Linked DNA regions of Homo sapiens. The protein of the gene in region 1 interacts with the protein of each later gene in a biochemical or structural test. Each region holds a gene or a part of one and is shown in the gene's direction. Other genes may lie near its edges. The genes, in order: RAP2A, RAPGEF3, RAPGEF6 and RAPGEF5.

Region 1 (7,882 bases):
AACATGTAATTGGTTGCTTAATATCTGTCTCTCCTGCTAGAATACAAGCTCTTTTGGCTAATTGCTTATTGTTTTATCCCCAGAGCCTAAAAAATATACACAGTAATTACTCAATTAATATTATAGTATCTTTGAACTATCGTTCAGATATTAGTGAAATGAAAGTGCTCACAAATGCTTGCTGATTTTTTAAAGCCCGATTTTGGCTGGAATCCCTCATACTTTTTGTTAACAGGTGGGATGTATTTTGCTGTAAGATGCAGAAAACCTTACCAACACACACTTAAATTGAAAGACACCAGCTGTTTACTTAGCCATAAGTCCAAATGTGGGCAGTTCTAATGTTGGTTTGACTGTCCAATGTTGTCATGCAGGACCTAGGTTCTTCCCATCCTCCTCCCTGGCCATCCGAAGTTGCTGGCTTTCTACAGTATTGCACCATAATGTCATAATGCATCATAGCCCCCAAATGGAGGCCACATTCTCATATTTCAATGTGTAAAGCAGGAAGCAAAGAGAGCGACATCAGAAAACGGGGATATTTCCTCACTCTTGTCAATATCCTAGAAATCCCTCCAGCCCTAGCAGCCTTCTCCCCATTCCAATGACAAGAACTGAGTCACGTGCCTACTTTTGGACTAACCGTGGGCAGAGGGAAAGCAATGCTATTAAAGTCCAATCCTGATTCATCCCAGCTTCTTTGGCAAAAATAAAGGGAAACTGCTGGGTACGCAAGCAACACTGTGCCTGCTCTTCTGCTTTGTTAAATGAACCACACTGAAGCTCTGTTTTCCGCAGAATCCTCTAGCTCTTAAGATTCTTCAGGCTTTTTCTTTTTTCTGCCTACATTTTAATCATTACGTCTTTTCTTTCAGATTTTTTTTCTGATTAAAATGGCCTTTTGAAACATCTACTCTCTCCACCCATACGTTTCTTTTATTGAGTTGTTTCCATACTCTTAATTTCTGCATTCTAATTCCTTTTCTTTTCAAAAGCACTGAGACATATCACATTTTTTAAAGGAAGAACAAAGTTTATTTTGCCCCTTCCTTTCCACTCCACATATATACTGCAGATTCTCAACTGTATTAGGAGCCTCACAGGTCAAGAAACCATCGTCTGCTCTCCTTATACTTGCCAGCAGCGTTTCACAGGTGCTAAATGTACTTGACATGCCCTTCCCCTTTATGTTTAATCAGAGGCATGCAGGCTTTAATAAGAAGCATTAGGAATCAGGGTTTTACAGTCGAAAAGTACCCCTCGCATTACAAACATCCTCTACTAATTTGTTTCTATTAAATTATCTGCATATTTGCTTCTTGCTGGTGTCAGGAAGTCCCAGAATACAGTACCTTTCCCACTTCATACCACCTTTTCCAACACCTTTTACAGAAAGAAAGGATGGACTTGGGTTTCCACGGTAACACAAGTGCGATAATTGAAGGTATCTGGCTATAGGTGAGATAACTCCCTTTCAGATTTAGTGGAGAGAGGAGAAATGAAGATTTTCTTTCTTTTTATTCTCCTGGCAATGCACTTTGGAAACTAAAGGGATCCTGCAGTGTCAGTTACTGCGTTAAGTTTTCACTATCTTACAGATTTACAGCTCTTGGGAATAATTCAAATTTCTTTTATATCATTTTTATTTTTTATTTCCCACAAACAAATGAAGATATAAGTTATTTCTATAATCATCTCAAAATAGAGTTTATGCTGGCATCGGAATGAACATGACTAAGGGGTTAGAAAATAGACATCCATCTCCCACCCAAGTCCTCTAAATTCTCTACACGTCCTGACATCCTTTTTATAGCAGCTAATCTTTCACCCAACATTTCACCTACAACCACAAATCAGGTAAGTACCATCATTTAAGCCAGAATAGGTGAGAAAATATGCTCCGACCTGTCATGTTTCTTTTGCCTCTTGGTGGTTAAAAATCAACCTTTATGGTACTGAGCATGAAATCTGAGGCCTGTCAATATAAGGCCTGTAAATAAATGAACTGTAACCACCCCAAGGGCTGCAGTCTCTATACCCCTTCTTATCAAAAACGTCAGCATTGATGAGAGGTCAGGGGAAATAGCCTGAGAAATGTCACAAAGCTGTCCTACTCTGTATTATGCTAAATGGAGTGACTACGGAGCCCACTCACTATTTTTGTGACAGCTTCAATCCAGAGCTTCTCAACATCTAGGGACCTAGGAGTCATGAAAACAGTTACTTAAGGCAACCTTCTGGACCCCACAATCCCAATACAAATTTCTCAAAAACATTAATCACTGGAACTTCATTCCTTGCAAAGTAAATGGACTTAGAGCTCCTTTGTAATGCAAGGTACTAGATGAGTTGTCATGATCTAGAGAGAAAGCTTCACGCTTCCTGGCTCTATTTAACAACCCTAAGAACTTCTTATCACCAAGATGCACAGTTAGAATCTTAAGACAGTCTGTCTTTCCTTGGAAAAGAAGTATAGCTTCTACTAACCCAAAGTAACCATGAATAAGCATACCAATTTTACACAAAATATGAGACTTCTGGAAAGCTAGGTGAACACCATACTTACCTACATCCTCTTGAAACATCCCTGCCAAAGTAGCTCAGATATGAAGCATCCATGTAAGCTCTTTCAATTTTAATTCACTATTTCATGTTAACTAGCCTAGGATGAAATAGTAGATCCTCTTCGGTTCCAGTTCCCTTAAAACAGTCCTGATTCTTAGTCCTTTTTATTAATATAATACCTTCACTGCTGATTCTGGTGGCTCAGATAGTACCATTCATATTTTAATGATATGTAATCAAGAAATGCTGAGTTATATTTTACTACATACACATTTTTAAATTCAGAGGACATTTGTCCTTGATAATTTTAAATGAAAACTTGGTGTGTGTTCATTACAGCAAGGTAATGCAAATATAAGTTATCCATTCTAATATAACGAAGCTATAGGGAAATAAGAAACTACTAAATTTGAGTAGTCTTTGTAGTAGTTTGACTATCGACAGAAAAGATGGTGAAAGAATACCTGGCTTTTAACTCAGACCAAAATCCCCTCTGCATGATGACCTTGTGGGAAAGAGGAACGGGGAGAGGTATGCCAGGCTCTAACAACAGAACTACAGAAACGTGTTATTCGCAGGAAATGTGCGACAGTAACGAACAGGTGAGACTAGTTTGAGAAGGACATAGTTTAAAGAAAGTAAACTGAATAACCAGTTACTGCAAAAAATAATGCAGGAAAGCTTGGGGATGTATCGTCTCCTAAATTTGACGTTATGGGTGGGAGAGGATGTGTAACTAAGATGCAATGCTAGCGACAGAACGCTAAGTTTTAAAACTCAATAGTGAAAGAAAAAAAATAATGTTTTGGGAGGAACGCCTGGAAGACCCATGCAACTGCTGCACGATGTTTCCTTAAGGACCGGAACATTTCTCACCCTGAAGACAAAAGTCCCTGTGTTCTCGATTCAGCCCACATCCCTCAGCACCATTTCCATGCCCATCATTTAGGCAGAATGCCACGGAGGCGACGTGAAAAGTGGAATTCATCATTCTGGCTTGCAACGCATCTTGTTCTTTTGCCAGAACAGGGCACAGCAACTGGCTCCTCAATCTCTGCCCCTCCCAAACCCCAGCAGCCGGTCCCTGTCTCCATCCCGCCGGCCTCGGTGGCAAGGGGCTCGCGAGCTCTGGTTGGCTTGGCCGAAGCTTCCGTCACTCGCCAGCTCACCTACGATTGGTTGGCAGAGCGTGCGCGAAGAGCCCCGCCTGGCAAGGCACTGGGAGGTGGGCTTGCGGATCCTACGACTAGCGTTTTTCTCGATTGGTTGAAGGAGTAAAGGCACGTGGTATGGGGGCGCTCTCTTATTGGTCGTGAATGGTACCTTGTGGTACAGAGACGTGATGTGGTTGGCTAGAATGAATCCCAGCTTCCCACTAGATGCCCCTAGCTGGCTGTTGCTATGAGGAGTCCAGGGCCTTCCGGCTGCCGTTCGGGATTCCGCTCTCCAGGTTTTCAACTCACCCGTGGCTGACAGGGCGTGGGAAGAGCTCGACTTCAGTTCGGCACCGAAAGGGGCGGGTCTAGAAGAAATGTGGGCGGGTCCAGAGGGTTGGTGGGCGGGACCCCGGCGACGTCAGCGGGCTTGGACCCGACTTCCGTGGTGTGTGGCCGCCTCTGACTCGCCCCTCTGGCGCGCTGCTAGAGGGGGGCGTCACCCTCCCATCAATGTCCTAACGCTCCAAAGCTTCATTTTGTTGCGTTTACACAACTTCAGTCAGAAGCCTGTAGGTGCCCCCCCCTTAAAGCTTCACATGCTAATACAAGATAAAACCAAAGCTCTAGGAGTGCTGACAGACTGGGTGGCATCGGACAAAGGCCCTCGCGGCCCCTCTTGGGCCTTGGGCATCTCTCCTTCACTCCCCGCCTCAGGATAAAGCTTGGAGGTAGCTCTAGCCCCTCTACCATCTCATCCCTTCCGAATTCTTAATGTCTCGGGAGTCTCAGGTTGACGCTGCTCCTGGCTTGGGCGGGAACTGCGCATGCTCGGTACACAGGCCCTGGGGTCTGACTGGGCGCGCTGGGTTCGGCGCTGCTCGGCGGTCGCGGTGCTTGTTTATCTCCGCGCGGGCAGAAGCTTCCGAGCCCCGCAAAGCCTCTCGGGAGCGCTCGCGGCCCGTCGCCTAGGGGGCGGGGGCGGGGCTGCGCCGCGGGCTCCGCCCCGGCCGCCGGACCCCGCCCCTGGCCGCGCTGCGGCTGGGGCTCGGGCGCGCGCTCGAGCGCTGGGGGTAGCGGCGGCGGCGGCGGCGGCGGCGGGCGGGGATCTGGGCGTGGAGGCGCGAGGGGCGGGGCGGGCGGCACTGCGGGCCCGCGGCTCGGGCGGCACCAGCGGCTCCCGGTCTCTCTCTCTGCTCGCCCTCAGTCCCACCCGGTGCCTACGGGGCCGCATCGCCGCCCGGCTCGGCCCGGCCCATGCCCAGGGCCGCTGCTCCCTCAGTTGCCGCCGCCGCCGCCGGCGCCCAGGGGGCCGCCGCGGCTGTGAGGTGGGGGCGGCAGCGGGAGGCGGCGGGGCGGGCCGCCGGGGCCGGGGCTGGGGGCGCAGCGCGGCCGGCGTAGGTCTATGTCGCGGGCGGCGGCGGCGGCGGCGGCCGCGGAGGGACGATGCGCGAGTACAAAGTGGTGGTGCTGGGCTCGGGCGGGGTAGGCAAATCCGCCCTGACCGTGCAGTTCGTGACCGGCACCTTCATCGAGAAATACGACCCCACCATCGAGGACTTCTACCGCAAGGAGATCGAGGTGGATTCGTCGCCGTCGGTGCTGGAGATCCTGGACACGGCGGGCACCGAGCAGTTCGCGTCCATGCGGGACCTGTACATCAAGAACGGCCAGGGCTTCATCCTCGTCTACAGCCTCGTCAACCAGCAGAGCTTCCAGGACATCAAGCCCATGCGGGACCAGATCATCCGCGTGAAGCGGTGAGCGAGGGCACACGGGGGCTTGGCGGCTGCACCCCGGAGTCACCGTCCCGGGGCTGGAACTCCCCGCGCGGGGCTCCGGGGAAGGGGCTTTCTGGGGGGTGGCTCCAAGCTGGAGGCTTTACTATTGTCATTCTGCTCCTCCTCCTCAATCTCAAATTTGAGTGCTTTGTTTCACAACTAAAATTTGGCATCGTGTTAGCCCACAGAACAGCTCTTTGTCTCTTGGACGTTGTTAGCATTGCTTGTTACAGAGCCCCCAAGGAAACAAAGTTTAAAACTTGCAGGGGGGAAAGGGGTGGATAGATTTGTCTTGGGAAGAGAGGAACTGTGCAGGTATAGTCGAGACATTTGCAGACTGAACAACAACAATCTGCCTTGGCAATGTTTGACAGTAAAAATCGCTCACACACCTATACAGTAAAGTCAAGTCCAGAGGAAGGAGACCTTTCTCATCTCGTTAAAGGTTTATGGTTCCAAGGCGTTTTACAAAAATTAAGTCTCTAATTTAGTGCAAAACTTTAAAGACAGATTATTAAATTATTTGAAGACATCATAAGCTAAATGGGGTTTCGAGAATATTAACAGAGGAGTACAAATAAGCCATTCACAGGAAAAGAATGCAGCTTAACTGTTTGTTTTTGTTTTTTTGTTTTTAATATAGCCGCCTTAACCCCTTCCAAAAAAAAAAAAAAAAAAAAAACACCACCACACCACCACCACCAGTTCCTGGAAACAAAACAGAAGCTTCTTCAAAAGTGTGACACAAGTATTAGCTAATTTAAAGTTAATGTTAATAAGCCTTTATATATATATATAAATTCTTTTCTAAAGTATACATTTTGGAAATATGGCTGATAAATGATTTAAAATGTTTGTTTTCTCTTAAATTCACTGAATATATTTTTCCGTGTAATTTTAAGCATTAGAAATGTGATAATATCTTAGTTCAAAGTTTTGGCAAATTTTTCTAATTATCATTTAATTACACATTACTGTTTCATCTAGTTCTTGTTAGTTAATGCCTGCTGATAATTTTGGTGTCCTTTTTTTCCTGCCTTATTCTACCTAGAGCCTAAATCTGAAGACCTTTACTGAAAGATGGTTGTAAGTGCACCGTAGACACAGTCACATTGTAAGTCAGTTTGAGTCCACTCATTTTGAAAGAGCAAGGACCAAGTTATGTGTACCCAGGGGATGATCAAAAATTCATTACGAGTAGTGAGTTTTTAATGCAACCTATGAGATCAAAGAGAAGGCTCTCTCTCTATTGCTCCACCCCCCCTTAACTGAGTATGCACTTTAATCGCTGAACTAAAATCGTGCATGTTATTCATCCTTGTGTTAAATTCCAAACTAGAATAAAGCAGATATTTTCGTGGTCTCTGCTGCTAAGATTTGTAAATTTGATAGCTTTGTACTTCTCCAGTATCATTTTCCTAAAGTTAAATGTTTATAGTTAAGAGATGAACAATTCTGGTGTTAAACTTAGTATGAGGATGGCATTTAAGGGGCTACATTTAAGTTACTTAAATTCTTATTACCCCCTCCCCCAACCACTCAATTAAAAAGAAACAAACCAAACCAACTGCAGGGTAGTCTGATACATTGCCACATGTCAATGTTAGGCCAAATGCATACATCAAAAAATAATCTAAGTAAATGCCCCAACAGCCTCACCCTTCACATTTAGATATATATGCTTAAAGATATGAAGATGCACATATACACTGATAAAGCCACATACCCATGGCTAACTTCTTGACACAAGCCTAGGGAACAAATATGGCAAAATATTATTGGATAATATGGTCCACATAATTTTGTAGTTTCTTGTAATTTAGTGCAGATTACTTTTCTCAGTTATAATAATAGGTTAGTCTAAACTCAGCATATTGGAGCAATTTGTTTATTTTCACTATGACCCAGAGGAAAAACATAGAGTAAAATTCTGCATGCCCAGTATCATTTTACTCACTAGTCTCAGTTCTTGATATAAAAAGATCATTGATCAGCTGAAGTAGAGTTCATAAATTCTCTTCACCAGAATTCAACCGTTGTATACATAAGAACCTCTTGGACCCTCACTTGTGTGTCTTTGTAATATGGTAGTAGTAAGGTATTTTACACCTCATCCTAACCCCAGCGTCTGGCTTCCCATCATTGATGGAGAGGACATGTGAATGCAGGTGGCCTCTTCTTTACCAGTCTTTCAGTATTTGATATCTACTGTCAAATTCAGTATTCAGCTTTAGGTCTAGGTCAGCACTTTTCAATAGAGATATAACGTGAGCCACATATGTAATTTTAACATTCCTAGTAGCTGATTTTTTAAAAATAACATAAATATATGGAATTAATTTTAATGTATTTTATTTAACCCACCATATTTAAAATAGAATC
Region 2 (7,024 bases), on another chromosome or scaffold:
TTAGCCCAGGGAAGGCTTCCGTGAGGGAATGAGTGCCAGCTGTGAGCATGCACGCCCATGGTGAAGGGGTGGAGCCCGAGTCCCAGGAAGACAGCACTGCCAGTTATTGAGGCCAGACCTCCCTCTTCGAAAGCCAAGGGGAAAACCCATCAACCTCCCAGAGAAGAAGTCTGAAGACAGCTCTTTCTGTTCCTACCTAGACCAGGACAAGAGAAAATGAAAGCGGGTTACAGTAGGAGGGCTTGCAGTTAGATACAGACTAAGATAAGACTTAACAGCTATTGCAAAAGTGACACTGGAATGGGATGGAAGAACATCTTTGGAAAATAAGAGGGGGAGGTGAGATCTTGTCTGATGTCCGGGGGCAGGGGCAAGATCAGAGTGACCTGTGGTGGGTTCTACTAGCTCAGGGAAGTCTGAGATGATTCTCTTTGTGTGACTGTTCTTGGGGAAGTGGCCCTGTTTTGTAACTCCGAGAACGCACTTTCATTCAACCTATCCAAATAATAGTAGTAGTTAATAGTTATACAGTACTTATGTGCCAGACATTATTGAAAGAGGTTTGCCTTTATCATATCAAATAATTCTCACAACAGCCCTGTGAGATAGGTACTAATGTCATCATCTCCATTTTATAGATGTGAAAACAAAGCCACAGAGAGGTTAAGTGACAGATTCAGAGTTACGCAGCTGCTAAGTGGCAAAGCTGGGCTTTGGTCCCAGGCAATCTGGCTGCAGAGTCCAAGCTCATAACCACATAACCACCATGCTGCACTTCTCTCTTGCTACGAACAGTAACACTGACACCTTAAGGCATCATCCCGGCCCCATGCACCCTTCCCCTGTCCCACCACAAGCAGCCCTAGCTTGACACCTTAGCTATGGCCCAAGGGAACTGGTCTGACAGGTCCCCAGGCTGTCTGGCTCTGTGCCTGTCTCTCCAGCCCAGCTCTGACATTCAGTGACAGGGAGTGAGGGTGGGGCAGGCCACAGTGCTGGTGCCAGGGGAGTTAGTGCCTCCTCTTCCGCCCTGAACCCTTTCTGTTCAGGAATGAGAGTGGGGAGTGGGTGAGGAGGACCTTCACCTTGACTCATATCAGCTGCTTCTTCCCAACTGAGAACCCTGAAACTGACATGACTAGCATTGTATTTTTTTGCACTGTGTCCTGGTAATAGGGCCCATCATGAAATAATAACATCTGATCAAGTCAACTAAACTTACTAAGTAGTTACTATGATCCAGGCACCATTCCAAGTACTTTATATTATTAACTTTTTGATCCTCATAACCCTTTGTGATAGGTACTATTCATATCATCAACCCCAGTTTACAGATGAGGAAACCGAAGCACTGCAAACTTCAGTAATCAGCACGAGCTCACACAACCAGATGGTAACGCAAAAGCTAGGATTTGAACCCAAGCATCTGGCTGCAGAGCCTACACACTTGACCACTGCCCTTGAATAGCAGCCCTCTCTCCGCCCCATCCTAGAAGGTTGGCAGGCACACAAACATCCTGGGGGCACAGAGAGGGTAGAATAACAAACCTGTCTATCTTTGTCTAACCCAGTGGTTTCCAAACTTACTTGCCCACAGAACTTGCCTGAAGGCAGAATACCTCTACTGTCTGTGCCTATAGCACAAAGCTGAGGAAACATGGGAATAGGCATAATGGAAGACGGTAGGGCATAATGCTAAGAGCATGGCCTTTGGAATCAGACATAGGTATGAATCCTGGTGCCCTTATTGACCAACAGTTAGGGCAGGTTATAGAACCTTGGAGCTTTCTTTTCTCTAGCTGTGAAATAGGAAACAAATACCTACCTCTGGGGTCAGCACCAGTAGCAGAGTTATTCAGTAGAATCTTACCTTTCTAAATAGTTGTGTGATCTCTCTGGGCTTTTGCTTTCCTTGTCAAAATGAGAGGGATTCCTTAAAGTCCCTTCCTCAGTGCTCATGGACTAGGGCCATTCTCTGACCTGCATCCTCATCCCCTGGGGGAGGACAGGAAATGACCAACCTGGCCACGTGACCCAGCACCACCCCTCCTAATGTGCCCTCTCCCAAGTCAGAATAATACCAGGAAGGGGGCTGGTGCTGGAGCCTGGGTTGTGGGCTCCAATGGGAGTTGGGGCAGGGACTGGGGCCACCTGGGCATTTTGATATGAACAACAAGTCATTAGCACTCAGGCACTGTTTGTTCCGACACAGGGGGCTGGCTGGGTAGCATTCCTGCCCTTCCTCCCTTCCCTGGCTCCTCCTCCTTCTCATTTCCTGTCGTTAAGTCTCCAGGGCTCTGTGTCTGGCACTGGGCTGGGCCCCATGACCCGGGCAGGGATACCCTTGGGACACCTAGTGACTTCCGCCCAGCCCTGGGCCAGGCGCCTGCACATGCCAGACCTCAGGCCTCTGCTTGGGCACGCAGTGCCAAGATGCCTGTGCCCAGGGCCCTGCCAGCACCAGGACTGGTTGTACTGCAACTCCCCAGCAGGTCCTTTTCAGGGACCTGAAGCCAGATGGGAAGCTAGGAGAGAGGTGGCTGGTGAGGGGAGAGGAAAGGGGCAGGTGGGGTGGGTGTAGGGAGACTGAGAATGGGAGCACTTCTGGGTGGGAACTTGAACTTCTCCACAGCTGTCTGGCTGTCCGAAGTATGCGCAACTGAGTTACACAAGGTACCTCACCTCCAGGCTTTTATTTCCTTGTAAGTGACAGAGGACAGACAATGCCTGCTCTGCCTATTTCACATCTGATCCTATTTTACATGAGATCCAATGAAATCAAGGGGGCGATTGTGCTTTGTAAACTGTAAAGTGCTTTGTAAACTGTAAAGTGAGCCCTTTGAGAGGGCTCGTAGATGGTAGAGCATCCTGTCCAGAGATGTCCACAAACCCCAGATTCTCAGGTGGTAGGAAGAGAAGGGTCGTGAGGGGCTTTCATGGCCATTATTCCAGGGCGTACAGGCCCGGGAGTTCCAAATGGCTTGTTACCAAGGGCAGGGAATCCTTACTAAGCAGTGTTTCCATGATAAAGTGCGTCTTCCTGAGCCAGTCCTGTGTGCCACCAAGGACTTATTCACTCTCGCAGGGCACAGGCTAGCAACATCTCAGAGAAGAAAGACGCTTTCCAGCAAGCAGCCCCACCCTAATGCCTCACAGATGAGTACTAGCTAACATGTGCATACAACTATATGCCAGGCAATGCTTTAAACATTCGATGTGTAGCAACTCATTTAATTCTCCCAAAACCTCATGAGTCGGTATTATTAGTGCTTTGTAGATTTTACAGTTCAGGAGACTCAGGTAGGGAGGGAGAGGTTAAATCATTTGTTTCAGGTCACATCTGCCATCAGTGGGGAAGCAGAGATTTTAATCCAGGAGCCTGGCTCCAGGGTTTGTGTTTTGACAACCAGGCTGATCCGAGGCCCAGAGATGGCAAGACACCTGCTCATGGGCCTGTGGAAGGACACAGAACCTGGCTGGGGATCAGGTCTGTGACCCCAGCCCAGGAGCGGATGTTCCCAGGCCTCCTGAGCTGCTCACATCCTGGCTCCCATCTCCCAGGTCTTCTTATCTCATGTCCTCATGCTCCTTCCAGCTCCCTCACTTCTTTCCCCCAACAGGGGCAGTTCACCTGGGGGCATGGGCACACCTGGGCCCTGAGTAAGCAGAATGGGTGTCTTAGGGCTCTCAACTGTAGGGAGGCAGTCCTTGAGTTGGGTTTGGTGATCAGGATGGCAGGGTGGGAAGAGGCGATGCCCGGGGCACAGGGTGCTGAGTGAATATTTGTTTATTTGCTGAAGGAGTGGCCACATGGATGCATTTGGGGTTGGGGCCTAGGCAAGAGTGGGAGTGATGGGGGAGGGGAGGTATCCAAGAGCTGGGCTTGAAGACCTCACACTGATGTGCACGCTTTCCCTGCTGCCCCCAGACACCACTCACCAACAGCGAGGAGTCCCTGGATTTCAGCGAGAGCCTGGAGCAGGTAGAAGCCTGGGCAGGGTGGAGCTGGGACAGGCAGCACCATGAGGGGTTCAGAGCCTGAACTGCTGTGCCCTTCCTCCCTCTAAGGCCTCCACAGAGCGGGTGCTCAGGGCTGGGAGGCAGCTGCATCGGCATCTGCTGGCCACCTGCCCAAACCTCATCCGAGACCGGAAGTACCACCTTAGGCTCTATCGGTGAGTGGAGGCCCTGCTGCCTCCTTGCCCAGCCTCACTGCTTTCTCTCCGTTCCACTTTATGTCAGGCACCTGGGCCTCACCCTGCTTCTAGCACAGGGACGAACCAGGCTTGGGCCTCAGAGGGTGCCTTTCTAATGCATAGTTCCTCCCTCTCCCTGCCACCCTCCTTCCACTGGCCTGTCCCCTTCTACCTTCCATAGGCAGTGCTGCTCTGGCCGGGAGCTGGTGGATGGGATCTTGGCCCTGGGACTTGGGGTCCATTCCCGGAGCCAAGTTGTGGGAATCTGCCAGGTGCTGCTGGATGAAGGTGCCCTCTGCCATGGTGAGCCCGAGCCCAGGGTGGGGTGCCCCGGGCTGGGCTGGGCAGTGAGGGGGACAGGACAGGGCAGTCCTGGGAAGCAGGCACTACTTGGGGAGTGCTGAGGGGTGGCATCGCAGTGGGGTTTCATACCCACATAGCCTCAATTTCCTCTCCTCCCCCACGCCTGGGCCTCTGCCCCCCAGTGAAACACGACTGGGCCTTCCAGGACCGAGATGCCCAATTCTACCGGTTCCCCGGGCCCGAGCCCGAGCCCGTGAGAACTCATGAGATGGAGGAGGAGTTGGCCGAAGCTGTGGCCCTGCTCTCCCAGCGGGGGCCTGACGCCCTGCTCACTGTGGCACTTCGAAAGCCGTGAGTCAGAATCCCTGCACCCCGTGACCCCAGGCCTCACACAGCACTCAGATTTCACGGTTTCTCAGATTGATCTCTGGGGGCATCCCTTACCTGTTGTGGAGGGAAGGGAACCTGGCTGGCCCAGAAGCCCCTGGCGCTGACTGCCACGGACTCACTGTGTGACCTGGATCCCTCCACACTCCCAAACCCCCCCAAGTCAGTTTCTTCCTCTGTAGATGAGGATGTTGGACCAGGGGGATCTCTGAGGACCCTTCCCACTCAGAGACACAGTTGTGGCTGAAAGCAAGTGGGTTTTGGAAACTGCAGTCCGGTGGGTCCAGGTTCAAATTCCAGCTGGACTGGCTACTGGCTGGGTGACCTTGAGCCTCCTCATGCTAGTTCCTGTTCTGTCAAGTGAGGATGATAGAACCACTCCTTAGGGTTGTTGTGAAACAATGCATGCAAAATGCTCATCACAAGCGCTGCCACATGTGCGCACTCAGTAAAGGTTAGCTGCTGCTGATAACTGTCACTGCTGAGGCACCGTCTGGCACAGGCATCGGCTGGGTGGGTGGAGTGGCTCCCTGCACCTGACGGGCCCACAGTTCACAGTGTGCTCCCATTCCTCCTGTCCCTGCAGCCCAGGTCAGCGCACGGATGAAGAGCTGGACCTCATCTTTGAGGAGCTGCTGCACATCAAGGCTGTGGCCCACCTCTCCAACTCGGTCAGTCCTGCCCCTCCCAGCCCTGCCCCGTACCAGGCATCTTCTCTTCCTGTGACTTCCCTGAAACTCCAACTGCTGGGCCAGAGGGCATTTCTCCACTTCCATCTATGGCTGGAAATTTTCAGTCTGATTTCTTGCCCCCGGCGCTGCCCTGTCTGAAAATCCTTCCGCCTCTCTCAGCCCATTTTCTCCACTTGCTTTGTCTCCTGCTGAATCCTGGGAACACCTGACCTGGCCACATCTTTGTCCCCCAGCACTTGTGTCTTTGGACCTAACCACACCCCTAGCAAAAGCCTGGCTGCTCTGCACATGAACTTGTCGCCACCGACTCTCCTATCTCCACCACACAGGTGAAGCGAGAATTAGCGGCTGTTCTGCTCTTTGAACCACACAGCAAGGCAGGGACCGTGTGTAAGTCCAGCAGGGCATAAGAAGCCAGGCACAGGGCCTGGACATGGGCAGAAGGATGTGTGAAGGAATGGTAGGTGCCAGGAGGGCCCGGTCTGAGGTATGCTTCTGTCAGTGTTCAGCCAGGGGGACAAGGGCACTTCGTGGTACATTATCTGGAAGGGATCTGTCAACGTGGTGACCCATGGCAAGGTGAGCCCTCCCTCCTCCCCACCCCAGTGCCCTGGGTCCTAACTGCTCCCTGGTCCATGTCCTCATGGGCAGTGCCTTTGTTGATCTACTGCTGCTGACCCCGTGTCTCCTGTGTGGGTTGTTCTCCTGCCGTGGGTCTGTCCTGGCAAGAGCTGGGGGCGGCAGGGGCGGCAGGGGCGGGCTGAGACTGAGGCCTGGCTGCAGGGGCTGGTGACCACCCTGCATGAGGGAGATGATTTTGGACAGCTGGCTCTGGTGAATGATGCACCCCGGGCAGCCACCATCATCCTGCGAGAAGACAACTGTCATTTCCTGCGTGTGGACAAGCAGGACTTCAACCGTATCATCAAGGTGCTGCTGCTGGGGTTGGGGAGGGCAGGGGCCATTCGTCCAGAGAAGTGATGTGGAGAGAGGAGTAGGGACCAGAGCAGAGGGCCTGTAAGAAGCAGGGCAGGTAAGAGATGCTGGGCTATGACAGCTGGCAGTGGGACCATAGCCCTGGGTGTGTGTGAGAAGGTGAAGCCCATAAGGCACAGAAGGAGTTCAGTGAGACCAGTGACTTCAGGCTCAGTGTGGGAGACCAGGGGAAGGATGGGCATGCAGGGGGCGGGGGACTAGGCTGTGGGGGAGGCAGGATGCATGGAAGGTAGGGAAGGCTGAGGAGGTGGAGCCAAAGTCGGAGGTGGGAGAAGGGCTGTGGGTCCCTGTGGGACCCTCATGGGGCTCAGGGGCTGGAATGAAGGAGGTAGATGAGAGGGTCTAAAGCTGGAACATCATGAGTTGAGCATGGGATGTGGCCTGTTCTCCAGGATGTGGAGGCAAAGACCATGCGGCTGGAAGAACATGGCAAAGTGGTGCTGGTGCTGG
Region 3 (7,024 bases), on another chromosome or scaffold:
CAGGTGTGAGAGTAGTAAGAGATGAAGGAGGAGTGGAGATAATGATGCATAGCATAGGGCACATCCTATTTGACTTTTCAGTGAGGGGGAGCACTGAAAGATTTTGAAGCAGAGGAGTGATATTGACCTACTTAACCTTTTTTTTTTTTTTTTTTTTTGAGACAGAGTCTTGCTCTGTCACCCAGGCTGGAGTGCAGTGGTGCAGTCTGGGCTCACTGCAATCTCTGCCACCTGAGATCAAGCGATTCTCCTGCCTCAGCCTCCTGAGTAGCTGGGACTACAGGTGTGTGCCAACACGCCCGGCTAATTTTTTGTGTTTTTAGTAGAGATGGGGTTTCACCGTGTTAGCCAGGATGGCCTCAATCTCTTGTCCTCGTGATCTGCCCGCCTTGGCCTCCCAAAGTGCTGGGATTACAGGCGTGAGCCACCACGCCTGGCCTACCTTTTTGTTTTTAAAGAGGGTCTCACTATATTGCCCAGTCTGGTCACTAATTTCTGGGCTCAACAGATTCTCCTGCTTCAACCTCCCAAGTAGCTGGAACTACAGGCATGTGCCACTACACCTGACTACCTTACTGGGTAGTCTCCTGGCTGCTGTGTTGAGAATAGACTGTAGGTGTTTAAGGGCAAAAGCAGGAGGTTAACGGCTGTTATTGCATAAAATCAGGTTAGAGATGATGGTCACTCTGACTAAAGTGATAGTGATAGTAATGGAAGTGGTGAGAAGTGGTTAAGTTTTAGAAATATTTTGTAGGGTTAGCCAACAGGATTTGCTAATAGATCAGATGTGGACCTTGAGGAAAAGAGAAGAATCAAGCATGACTTCAAGGTTTTTGGCCTAAATAACTGGAGTGTTGGAGTTATTGTCAGAGAGGTTTGAGCTGCCATCAGCGAGATGGGAAAAGCTGCAGGAGGAGTAGGTTTTAGGGGCAAGATCAGAAATTCAGTTTTGAACATGTCAAGTTTGAAATGTCTGTTAGAAATGAGTAAGAGGTTGCATATACAAATTTGTATTACTAAGAAGCCTGAGCTGGAGATAACAATTTTATAGTCATCAGTTTATAGATATTGAAAGTCATGAGACTGGGTAAAATTACCAAGTAGTGAGTGTACGTAGAGAATAGAAGAGGACCAAGGACAGTGAGTACCATGGGACATGAGATCAGTATAAGGTCGGGGAGAAGAGTAGAAATCAGCAAAGGAGAATGAGTGGAAGCAAACAGTGCAGTAGGAGAAAAACCGAGAGAGTGGTGGTGCCCTAGAAGCCAAATTAATAAGCTGTAAAATAGAAGGGGATAAAATTATTTGTTTGGCTTATTTTTCCTTGAATACCTACTGGGTGCAAAGCGTTGTGAAAAATATACAAAGGGATGAGAATTAGTATGTTGAAATCATTTGTTTGCATCGTGTAATTGATGAGTAAATAATGAGTAAAGAACTCCTTGTGTTTCTGGGACAAAATGAATGGTTCCTTTATTTTGAACCATCTGTCGTCCTTAGGTGAAACTATCAACTCAGGCATAATCCTAGTGAGCCAGACATCAAGTACAGACACATGTTGTAAAGTGTGCCATTTAGATATCTTTCTAACACAGTGTGTGTGTGAGAGATTTCTCCTACTTATAGATTCAGCTTCCACAGAACATTGTCTTTCCTGAGCTAGTTCTTTCTCAATTTGCAAAGATATTCTTATGGAAAATTTCAGACTTAAATACTCCATGGACAATTAAGTGCACTAAAACAACAAAAACTGTTAAGGTACAGACATACCTCCCAGATACTGCAGGTTTGGTTCCAGACTACTGCAGTAAAGCCAATATCCCAATAAAGTGAGTCACGTGAATTTTATTTCCTAGTGCACATAAAAGTTGTTTACACATATAGTAGTTTATTGTGTGTGATAGCCTTATGTCTAAAAAAAGATATATGCCTTAATTTAAAAATACTTTATTGCTAAAAAATACTAACCAGTCATCTGAGCCTTCAGCTAGTTGTCATCTTTTAGCTGGTGGAGGGTCTTGCCTTAGTGTTGATAGCTGCTGCTGACCAATCAGGGTGGTAGTTGCCGAAGATTGGGGTGGCTGTGACAGTTTCTTAAAATAAGACAATGAAGTTTGCCACATCAATTGACTTTCTTTCATGAAAGATTTCTCTTTAGCATGTGATGCTGTTTGATAGCATTTTACCTACAGTAACTTCTTTCAAAATTGGTGTCAGTCCTCCCAAATTCTGCTGCTGCTTTATCAACTAAGCTTAAGCTTATGTGGTATTCTAAATTCTTTGTTGTCATTTGAACAATATGTACATCATCTTCACCAGGAGCAGGTTGTCTCAAGAAACCACTTTTTTTACTAATGCATAAGAGGCAGCTTCTCATCTACTCAAGTTTTATCATGAGATTGCAGCAATTTAGTCACACCTTCAGGCTCCATCTTCATTTCTTTTTTTTTTCTTTCCTTTTTTTTTTTTTTCTTTTTCTTTGAGACAAGATCTCATTCTGTTGCCCAGGTTGGAGTGCAGTGGCGTAATCACAGCCCACTGCAGCCTCTACTTCCCAGGCTCAAGTGACCCCACCTCAGCCTCCTGAGTAGCTGGTACTACAGGTGCATGCCATCATGCGTGGCTGATTTTTTTTTTTTTTTTGTAGAGACGAGGCCTTGCTATGTTGCCCAGGTTGATCTTGAACTCCTGGGCCCAAGCAATCCTCCCACCTTAGCCTCCCAAAGTGCTGGGAGCCAGCCCAGGCTCTATTTCTAATTCTAGTTCTCTTGCTATTTCTACCACACATGCAGTTGCTTCCTTCACTGAAGTGTTGTACCCTTCAAAGTCATTCATAAAGGTTGGATTCAACCTCTTTCAAACTCCTGTTAGTGTTGATATTTTGACCTCCTCCCATGCTTCACAATTTTTTTTTTCTTTTAAGTGATAGTCTCAATACATTGCCTGGACTGGTCTTGAACTCCTAGGCTCAAGTGATCCTCCCACCTCAGCCTCCCAAAGTGTTGGGATTACAGGCGTGAGTCACCATGCCTGGCCCACAGATGGTTTTAATGGCATCTGGAATGATGAATCATTTCAAGACAGTTTTCAATTTTCTTTTCACAGATCTGTTAGGGAATCACTGTCTATGTCAGCTGTAGCTTTATGAAATGTGTTTCTTAAATAACAAGACTTGAAGGTTGAAACTTTTCCTTGATCCATGGGCCACAGAATGGATGTTGTATTAGCAGGCCTGAAAAAAATCACTAATCTCCTTGTGTACCTCCATCTGAGCTCTTGAGTGACAAGATGCATTGTCAGTGAGTAGTAGTATTTTGAAATGAATCTTTTTTTCTGAGCAGTGGGTCTCATCAGTGGACTTAAAATATTCATTAACCCATACTGTAAACAAACGTGCTGTCATTTAGGCTTTGTTGTTTATTTACTGAGCACAGGCAGAATAGATTTAACATAATTCTTAAGGGCCTTAGGGTTTTCAGAATGGTAAATGATCATTGGCTTCAACTTAAAGTCACCAGCTGCATTATCCTCTAACAGGAGTCAGCCTGTCCTTTGAAGCTTTGAAGCCAGGCATTGATTTCTCCTCTCTAGTTATGGAAGTCTTAGGTGGCATCTTCTTCTGATATAAGGCTGTTTTGTCTACATTAAAAATCTGATTTTTAGTGTAGCCACCTTCATTAATTATCTTAGCTAGATCTTCAGGATAACTTACTTTTTATGTTAGTGGAGGTGGCTTTTTTTCGTAAACTTCATGAACCAACTTCCACCAGCTTCAAACTTTTCTTCTGCAGCCATCTCATCTCTCAACCTTTTTAGAATTGAAAAGTTAGGGCCTTGCTGTGGATTAGGTTTTGGCTTAAGGGACTGTTGTGGCTGGTTTGATGGTTTATCTAGACCACTCAAACTTTCTCCATATCAGCAATAAGACTTTTTCACTTTTTTTTTTTAAATCATTTTTTTGTTCACTAAAGTAGCACTTTTAATTTTCTCCATGTGCCTTTTCTTTGCATTCACAACATGGCTAACTGTGTGGTGCAAGAGGCCTGGCTTTGGGCCGTTGTTAGCCTTCCTAAGTTTAATCATTTCTAGCTTTTGATTTAAAGTGAGAGATAGGTGACTCTTTTCACTTGAACACTTAGGGGCCATTGTAGGGTTATTAATTGGCCTAATTTCCGTATTGTTATGTCTCAGGGAATAGGGAGGCCCCAAGAGAGGGAGATAGAGAAGGTGGAACAGCCAGTGGAACAGTTGGAACACATACATCAGTTACGTTTGCCATCTTACATGGGCACAGTTTGTGGTGCCCCAAAACAATTACAGTAGTAACATGAAAGATTGCTGATCACAGGCCACCATAGCAAATATAATGAAAAAGTTTGAAATGTTGTGAGAATTACCAAAATGTGACACGGAGACATGAAGTGAGCATGTGCTGTTGAAAAAAATGGTGCTGTTGGACTTGCTTGATGCAGGGTTGTCATGAACCTTCAATTTGTATTTAAAAAAAAAGAAAACAACCCCACAATACCAGCCAAGCACAATAAAACAGAGTATGCCTGTACTTCTTTGCGTCATTATGCCAGAATTCCTTAAAGAAGCCACAGTCATAATTAGACCTTGAACTTGGCTGTTTCTCAGCTCAATCCACATTTAATACCATTCTTTATAACGTTCCTTTTTTTACTTCAGAATGAACTCCTTATATTTCCCTTAATGTTTATTTCCCTCTCAGTGCTTAATGCCATGATTTGCACATATTAAATGATGAATAAATATTTTACAAGCCAAAATTTGGAAATACATTTTGTAAAGTCATCATATGTTAAAAAGGTAGCACTTCGTATTCATTGGAACTGCTAACTTTTTGTTTCTTGGACAGTCTTACTCAGCAGCTTGGTTTCAGTTAGTTGTTATAGGCTAATGCCTCCTAGGATTATGTTTTCCAACTTATCCCCTAAATTTTATGTGCTTCAGCTTCATATATCAACCATCTTGTCCTCCAGGTTCTTCAACCACTTGTCCTAAATTGAGCCATCATTATTCCTCTTCCTTCATAATCTGTTGGCAGCTGGCCGAGTTGCTGTCTCTAGGAATTTGTATTATTTCTCTTCATTCCTCATAGATGCAACTTGCCACTAAACTTTGTCCCCTGAATCTTTTTATTTGCCCTTTTCTTACAAGTTTTACTACTCTAATTCAGTCTGTTTTATTGTTTCTACCCCCAAATTATTGCTTGAGTCATTGAGTCTTGCTGCTAGAGTGATCTTCCTCTCAGATCTGATTATGTTCTACTCTTGCTCAGAATTTTATTTCCTATATTTCCTAGGTATAGATTAACAATATGTTGTTCAAATCATTTTTGTGAATTAAAAGAGAAGCTGTTAATATTTATTTCAGAGTAACAGGTTAAAGAGGGACTGTCCCGCTTAAACTGAGATATGGTTACCTCACCCAGATGATAACATTAATTTGTACATTCATTTAAGAAATAATATATCTGATATATTAAAAACCAAGGTTGTAGAGAGGAGTTAGACATGGTCCCTATTCATCAATGACTTGGGAGACATAAGAAAACATAAATGTAATAAATGTTTTAGTTATTAGTGACAAAGGTATGAGTAGGGCTTTGGGATTGCAAGATGGGGAAGGGAACAAGCTTCATGGGGGAGCATTGAATTCCCAGTGTTAAATGTCATGAATTGATTTCTGGATGATCAAGAGAGGTCATTCCAAGCAGAGAGGCAGGAGCAAAAGTACTGATGATGGCAAGCCATGTATACTTGTAGAATAAGAAGCCAATCTGTAAGTCTAGAGCAGGCATTCCCGTTGGAAGTGATATCGCTCCCAAAGATGCAAAAATTGCCTTTTATGGGAGTGGGAAAAAAAATCACAGCTATTGGTATGGTTTGTGGCCCTCTAAAACTCAGCCCTAAACTGACAGTGTCTTATTCTTTAGTATTTAATTAGAGATGGGGCAGTGCTTACGAAAAATTGTCTGAAAGGTTCTTTGGGAGGGGATGAAAATGAAAAAAAGGTTGCAGAACACTGGGGCTAATGTCTAGGATGTTTGGGGATGATGGTACATGATGTGAGATGTTTAATGATGAAGCTGGACGTACTAGCAGGGTTTGGATAATTTCAGAAATTTGGACTCCATCTTATAAATAAAGGAGAAAGAACCGTTGCAGGGTTTAAAGCCTGGAAATAAGATCAGTTTTATAAAGACTACTATGTGAGCATTTTGGAGATGTAATTGAGTGGGGAGGAGCAGACTAGAGACAGGGAGGCTTATAGGTATACAGGTAGACTGGACATGTATTTTATCCAAACTGGGATATTTTCCATGTGAAAGGTAAGACTACTAGTGATTATACTAAGATAATATGGAAACCAAGAAGTATGGTTTTTTTTTTTTTTTTGAGACGGAGTCTCTGTCACCCAGGCTGGAGCGCAGTGGCGCTATCTCGGCTGACTGCAAGCTCCACCTCCCGGGTTCACACAATTCTCTTGTCTCAGCCTCCCGAGTAGCTGGGACTACTGCCGCTCGCCACCATGCCTGGCTAATTTTTTTGTATTTTTAGTAGAGACGGGGTTTCACCATGTTAGCCAGGATGGTCTCGATCTCCCGACCTCGTGATCCACCCACCTCGGCCTCCCAAAATGCTGGGATTACAGGTGTGAGCCACCGTGCCCAGCCACCAAGAAGTATGTTTTGTTGTTAGAAACAAATACAGTAGTTCAGGTGTGAGATAAGGTCCTGGACCCAGTGGTGGCAGCAGTTAAGTGGGATAGTGAGGTATTAAGGAGGTAGAATTGGCCCAACCTGGTCACTGGTTGGAAAGATAATTTCTCCTCCTCCCCCAGACTTTTTTGAAAAACTTTGAAATGAACTATAAAACATAAAGTCCATATGCCCTAAATATACATTGGCAGATGATTAATTTGTTTTGTTTGTTTGTTTGTTTTTTGAGACGGAGTTTCTCTCTTGTCTCCCAGGCTGGAGTGCAGTGGCACAATCTCA
Region 4 (7,024 bases), on another chromosome or scaffold:
CGCATCAGAATCTATACTTTAAGAAGATCACCCAGGTGACTCCTAAGCAGAGTTTTGAGAAGCCTTGTTCTAAGAAGCTTCTTCCATATCACCTGTGAACAAACAAGCAGCTGTATCCATCTAGCTACCTTTGCAGTTTGACAGTTTAGTTTGTTTAGTAAATGCTTTATTGTGTTCTTTCATAGTCCAGGTGATGTCAGACACTCAGAGCAGACTGAGGACCTGCATTGTTTTGAGAATATGAATTAAGATGGTACAGTATTTAATCCATGAGATAAAAGTGCTTTCAAAGCCCTGAGATGCTGACTAATTGGCAGAGGTGTTGAGGAATTAATTAGTTAATTAACACTTTGAACCTTTAACATGAAAGATATCCTATAGAATTAGAAGTTAAGTCTTGACTGTTTGGTCTAATTGCCTGTTTTATTGCCATCTGTTTTCTCATTTTCTCTAAAAAAAGAAATCCATATATTTGACTGTTAATCTTTATGCTGTCTTATGCTAACCTGCAACTGAACATGTCTAGAATTGGCTTAATTGCCTTAGAGTATCTGTCAAATAGTGACACTTTACCAAATATATTCTAGCTTTTGATGAAAAGCTGGGATGTTTGATCAAATATCTCAGCAGAAAAGTTTACTACTTTATTTTTCTTCACCCCAGAAAATGTAGCATCCATGGCAGTTCATATTGTTGGTTATGGTGTGATTCTAGGGTATTTGTAACTATGCCAATCACAAGAGACAGCAAAATAGGCAATATTTTTCTACTTTAGAAATACAAATAAATGTCGGCATCTCTTGGTCCTTCAGTACTGCATATAAAGATAGTCATTATATGATACATTATTTTAAAAAAACATTTTGGCCAGGTGCTTGGCTCATACCTGTAATCTCCGCAGTTTGGGCAGCTGAGGCAGGATCACTTGAGCTCAGGAGTTTGAGACCAGTCTGGGCAACATGGCAAAACTCAGTCTCTACAAAAAACAAAAATTAGCCAGTGGTGAGCACCTGTACTCCTAGCTACTCAGGAGGCTTAGGTGGGAGGATCTCTCAAGTCTAGGAGGCAGAGGTCGCAGTAAGCCGAGATTGCACCACAGCACTCCACCCTGGGTGATAGAGTATGACCCTGTCTCAAAAAAAATTTTTTTTCATGATCTTTTCTCATAAGGGAGAGTGAAATTTGATGAAATTTCTGCAAATGACAAAACACTTCAGAAGTTTTTCTTTTTGTTTTCCCCCTGAGGCTCATATGTATCTGAAAAGTAGGCATGATGATACCGCCTGTAATAACCAGGTTATGACATTTTTTTGAATATAGTTGTGTGTTTTAAGACAGATTACAAAAATAATTTTTCATGCGTGGTTAGTGGAATCCAACACATCTGGGTTTATGGTTATGTGACCTGGGCTGCTTAAATAGTTACAATGATTATATTAAAAAGATTAACAATCAAATTTATTGTTCTTGGAGTAAATTTTAGGGTTCAATCTTTGTTTGAAGAATAGCAAACAAACTCTATACAACTGACTGTGGTCCCAATTTTGTCTAATCTTGGAATTATTTTGTTCTCAAAAGGACTAGATAAAAATCTATAAATAATTGAACCAAAGTTTATCACCACCAACTTGAGGTATGTAGCTTACCAAGGTAAAAGCATTATCTCTATATAAAAGGCTGCTAAATTTATTCCTTCGTTTTTCAAACAAATATATTTTGACAACTTACTGTGTATTGTGGACTGTTCTAATTGTTGGGAATTAATAGTGAGTTATATAAAGTTCCTGCTCTCCTGAAAATTATTCTCTAGTGGGATAAGCAGATATTGTTCCTTTGTAAAGATATATACTTACTAAATTTTAGGTGATTTGATGAAAAAGTAGAAGACAATTTGACTCTTGTTTCCCTAAGGAAGTGATATTTGAGCTTTAATCTGAAAGATGAATAAGAGGTATATGCCATTTATTCTTGGGTTGCTTGTCTAAAAAAAGCAAGCACATGAAAGGAAAGGTATTATATATCATTTTTGTTTTTTTGGCAAACGGATGTCAGCAATATCTTACTGTGAATGGCTTTGCTTTTGTTCAGGAGGAGCTGCGTTGGGTCAGAGCTGGTAGACTGGCTTCTAGAACACTGTCCTTTCGTCCAGTGCAGATCTATGGCCATAGGAGTCTGGCAACTCCTACTGGACATGGGAATTATGTTATCAGGTTAGTATTATGTCTTGAAGGCACAGCATCATTATTTTATTAAGCTATCAGATGAAAATACACTTGATTTTCTAGAGGATGTTACAGTCTGGATGGAAATTATTTTTGAAGATAAATATTTGTATTCTCTCTTATTTTCTAAGTGACAGGTCATCTTTTGATTCACTTATTTCTCTTACAATTCTTGCAAAAATTATTAGATACTTGCTGATTCATAGACTAATATTACCTGTAGGAGTCCTTCCTCTACTTCCTTTCTTCTGAACTCAATATGCTGCTTACAAACTTTTTTCAAAATCAGTGACATCTTTAGTTGCTCTAAGTGTGTGATTTATCTTGTAGTTAGGATAATCATCAGAAACTGATTTTATGAGTGGGATGTTATGCCATTTTAATTGACTAAGTAATCATGAACACTTTGATATATGACCTATGAAAATTAGCTGTTTAGACTGAACAGAAAGTAGATGTTAACTGGCAACTAAAATAGGTGATGGATATCTCTTTTCTTAGTTGAGCCCAGAGAACTGAAGGATTAGAAACCGAGCAATCTGGATTATTTATTTAGCCCAGTCTCTCAGCTGCTAGTTGGTCACTGAAAAGCACTTTTTTCCTATAGGTAATAAATATCAAGGGCATACCCCTGGTCCTGTTGTGAAAGAATGGTACAGATATGGACGTGGGTGTAATCTTCTTAGATAGTCAATAGTACCTAGCACCGAATACTCTTATTTATAAAATTAGTTAACTACCTTTGAAGAATGGAGGTATTATTAGGATACTTGATAGTTTCAGGCTTTTGGTTAGCAAAACATTTTGTACTAATACCTTTTGGAAAAATCTCTAGCTCTTGATTCCTTTAAAACAGGGTTTCCCCACCTTGGTAGTATTGACATTTGGGTTAGATAGTTCTTTGTTGTGACGGGCTGTCCCGTACATTGTAGGGTTTTTTTTAACAGCATCCCTTTTTTCTACCCTCCAATACTAGTAGCGCTCTGCCCCCAAAATGTAACAACCAAAAATGTCTAGACGTCACCAAATGTCCCCTGGGGGAGGCACAGTCACCCTAAGTTGAGAATCATTGATCTAAAACTTGCCATTATGTTGTATTTCTGTATTACTAAATTAATTAAATATACTAATTTGCTTTGGGTCACTAAAAAAGATTTCTCCCCATCCTCTTTGAATTGTTATTGATTTTATCTGCACCTGTCTCTGAAGCAGAAAAAATATGAATACATGTGAATATGCTGGCCAGAGCTTCTAGTAGTAAAAATAGACTAGTCAGTAAGTCCTTTCCAATTCAATGGGATTATAAACATGAATGAGCTTAGAATGTATAATTATAGTCTTAACCCTGATTGCTCCCAATTATTAGGGCTTTCAATTTATCATTTGAGTTATTACTCTCTGAGTAATATCTTTTAAAAAATTGATCTATATATTTTTTGTTTCAAACAGTGGACCAGCATCTATACTTTCAAGATACTTATGTTTTCTACCAGTTTTCCTCTGATGAATGTAGCTACTTGTACTGTGAATTTGAAAGAGAAGAAGAATGGCAAAATGGTGTCAAGCTTTTACTGCAACTTGTGCCTCTCATTCCTGCCAGAGGTGGCATCTGTGAACTGTAAGTAGATGCTCTCTTGTGCCATTGTATTCTTACACTTAGACAACATTTACCATGTCTAGGGACTATATTCTGCTCTTTAAGATCACTGTCTCACTTAAGAGGGAGTTACTATCCCCATTTTTCAGATGCACATTTAGAAAGATAAAATAAATTGCAGAAAATTAAATCCAGCTAATAAATAACTGGTATTTAAATCCCAGAAGCCTATGCCTAACCATCTGTACCATGTGGTTTCTAAATTATCATTGTTATAGGAGTAGATGATCTAAATTAAGAAAAAACATATGATTGGGCTTAAGTTGGAATAAAATAGTAACTCCCATCCTATTCGCTATCCAAATCGTGACTTTCCTAAGAGCTCAACAGAATGTTTCTGAAAATAGTCTAGAAGCAACATTTGGCAAATTAAAACACGTGAATCATCACATGAAGATACTGAATCACTATATGATTAAAATGAATTAAAATTAATTAGGGAAGGCTTGGGAACAGGACTTGAGTCATGATGTGGTGATTCTGACATGACTTTGTTTATCCATGGTGATAGCTTATTTTAGAATTATGAGTTATGGATTAAAATTTCAGTTAAAAACTGTTACATATGCAGAACACTTCAGTGTCCAGAATGCTTTCCCATATTGTTGACTCTTTCACTTCTATGATATTAGCGGGGGCAAGCAGTATGGTCTTTATGTCATAGATAAGAAAGTAGGTTCAGAGAGAAATACCTGTATAACCATAACAAGGGTAACTCTTATTAGTTAAAAAAATGACAGTTGACTGTTGAGAAGGAGGTGGAGCAAGATTAGGGAATTGAAGTCTCCACCAATTGTCTCCCAGGCAGTGACCCTAATTTAACAACTATCTACACAGAAAAAAAGACCTTCATAAGAACCAAAAATCAGGTGAGCACTCATAATACCCGGTTATAGTTCCATATTGCTGAAAGGAGCACTGAAGAAATAGAAAAAACAGTACTGAATCACTGATACCACCTCACCTCCACCATTTACACCAGCGTGTACAATAGACACAAATAAAATTAAATACCTAGGAACTAACCAGAGAAGTGAAAGATCTCTGTAATGAAAACTGTAAACACTGATGAAAGAAATCCAAGAGGACACCACAAATGGAAAAAATATTTCATGTTCATGGATTAGAATAATCAATGTTGTTAAAATATCCATATTACCCAAAGCAATCTACAGATTCAATGCAATCCCAACCAAAATACCAATGACATTCTTCCCAGAAATAGAAAAAACAATCCTAAAATTTATATGAAACCACAAAAGATCCGGAATAGCCAAGGCTACCCTAAGCAAAAACAGCAAAACTGGAGGAATCACATTACCTGACTTCAAATTATGCTACAGAGCTATAGTAACCCAAACAGCATGGTAATTGCATGAAAACAGACACATAGACCAATGGAACAGAATGGAGAACCCAGAAACAAACCCACACACCTACAGTGAACTCGTTTTCAACAAGGTGCCAAGACATGCACTGAGGAAGACACAGTCTCTTTAATAAATGGTGCTGGGAGAACTGGCTATCCACATGCAGAAGAATGAAACTAGACCCCTATCTCTCACCATATAAAAAATCTAATCAAAATGATTTAAAGACTTTTAGAGCTCAAACTATGAAACTACAAGATTGGGGAAAATTTTCAGGAAATTGATCTGGGTAAAAATTTCTTGAGCAATACTCCACAAGCACAGGCAACTAATGCAAAAATGGACAAATGGGATCACATTAAGTTGAAGATCTTCCTGCACAGCAAGGATACAATGAACAAATTGAAGAGACAACCCACAGAATGGGAGAAAATATTTGTAAGCTACCCATCTGGCAAGGGATTAATAACCAGAATATATAAGGAACTCAACTCTATAGGAAAAAATCTAATGATTCAATTTAAAAATGGGCAAAAGATCTGAATAGACAGTTTCTCAAAAAAAGACATACAAATGACAAACAGGTTTATGAAAAGGTGTTCAGCACCACTGATCATCAGAGAAATGCAAATCAAAACTACAGTGAGATATCATTTCACCCCAGTTAAAATGGCTTATATTCAAAAGACAATGGCTTATGTTCAAAAGACAGCAATTACAAATGCTGAGGAGGATGCAGAGAAAAGGGAACCCTTGTACACTGTTGGTGGGAATGTAAATTAGTACAACCATTATGGAGAACAGTTTGAAGTTTCTCAAAAAAGTAAAAATTGAGCAACCATAGTATCCAGTAATCCCACTGCTGAGTGTATACACAAAAGAAAGATTATATATCAAAAGGATACCTGCTTTCCTATGTTTTTTGCATCACTGTCCACAACAGCTGAGATTTGGAAGCAACCTCTGTGTCTATCAACAGATGAATGGATAAAGAAAACGTGGTACATATACACAATGGAATACTATTCAGCCATAAAAAAGAATGAGAGATAGTCATTTGCAACAACATGGATGGAACTGGAGGGCATTATGTTGAATGACATACGCCAGGCACAGAAAGACAAACATTGCATGTTCTTATCTGTGGGGTCTAAAAATGAAAGCAACTGAACTCATGAACACAGTAGAAGGATGGTTACCAGAGGCTAGGAAGGGTAATTGGGGACTAGTGGGGAGGTGTGGATGGTTAATGGGTACCAAAAAAACGTTAGAAAGAATGAATAAGGCCCACTCTTTGATAGCACAACAGGGTAACTATACCAATAATAACCTAATTGTGCATTTTAAAATAGCTTAAAGAGTGCAATTGGATTTTTTGTAACTCAAAGGATAAATGCTTGAGAGGATAGGTACCCCATTCTCTATGATGTGCTTATTTCACACTGCATGCCTGTATCGAAACATCTCATGTACCCCGTAAATATATATACCTACTCTGTACCCAGAAAGATAAAAAAAGAGAAAAAATAAATAAAATCTCCTGTTAAATGACAATACTGAATAGTTAATATGGACTGTTTTTAGGAGAATAAGCTTCAGAATATTGATGAGACTGTGCTAATAGAAAGGTTGATTGTGGAGAATGAATTTTAGGTCAGGCACTGTGCTGAATGCTTTATATTCATTATTTTACTTTCAGAAGAATGTTATAAGACAGGTACTATTATTATCTCTATTAAATAAGAGGGGAAATTAGGTACAGAGATCGGGTAACC

Evidence for each region.
Region 2: of the proteins of RAP2A (region 1) and RAPGEF3, one has a biochemical effect on the other in vitro, tested with the Homo sapiens proteins (one study listed by BioGRID).
Region 3: of the proteins of RAP2A (region 1) and RAPGEF6, one has a biochemical effect on the other in vitro, tested with the Homo sapiens proteins (one study listed by BioGRID).
Region 4: of the proteins of RAP2A (region 1) and RAPGEF5, one has a biochemical effect on the other in vitro, tested with the Homo sapiens proteins (one study listed by BioGRID).

What each region holds. Positions count from the first base shown.
Region 1 is NC_000013.11:97,429,306-97,437,187, forward strand, and holds the start of RAP2A (ras-related protein Rap-2a), read left to right. Parts: upstream 1-4,863; 5' UTR 4,864-5,165; coding exon 5,166-5,479; intron 5,480-7,882. UniProt on the Homo sapiens protein: Small GTP-binding protein which cycles between a GDP-bound inactive and a GTP-bound active form. In its active form interacts with and regulates several effectors including MAP4K4, MINK1 and TNIK.
Region 2 is NC_000012.12:47,748,874-47,755,897, reverse strand, and holds part of RAPGEF3 (rap guanine nucleotide exchange factor 3), read left to right. Parts: coding exon of another isoform or gene 1-49; exon of another isoform or gene 50-196; intron 197-1,870; exon of another isoform or gene 1,871-1,964; intron 1,965-3,928; coding exon 3,929-3,982; intron 3,983-4,068; coding exon 4,069-4,175; intron 4,176-4,377; coding exon 4,378-4,499; intron 4,500-4,636; coding exon of another isoform or gene 4,637-4,681; coding exon 4,682-4,850; intron 4,851-5,472; coding exon 5,473-5,557; intron 5,558-5,907; coding exon 5,908-5,968; intron 5,969-6,080; coding exon 6,081-6,157; intron 6,158-6,361; coding exon 6,362-6,508; intron 6,509-6,966; coding exon 6,967-7,024. Other genes in the region: SLC48A1 (heme transporter HRG1), read right to left, coding at 1-49. UniProt on the Homo sapiens protein: Guanine nucleotide exchange factor (GEF) for RAP1A and RAP2A small GTPases that is activated by binding cAMP.
Region 3 is NC_000005.10:131,625,210-131,632,233, reverse strand, and holds part of RAPGEF6 (rap guanine nucleotide exchange factor 6), read left to right. Parts: intron 1-7,024. UniProt on the Homo sapiens protein: Guanine nucleotide exchange factor (GEF) for Rap1A, Rap2A and M-Ras GTPases. Does not interact with cAMP.
Region 4 is NC_000007.14:22,305,155-22,312,178, reverse strand, and holds part of RAPGEF5 (rap guanine nucleotide exchange factor 5), read left to right. Parts: intron 1-2,088; coding exon 2,089-2,210; intron 2,211-3,671; coding exon 3,672-3,840; intron 3,841-7,024. UniProt on the Homo sapiens protein: Guanine nucleotide exchange factor (GEF) for RAP1A, RAP2A and MRAS/M-Ras-GTP. Its association with MRAS inhibits Rap1 activation.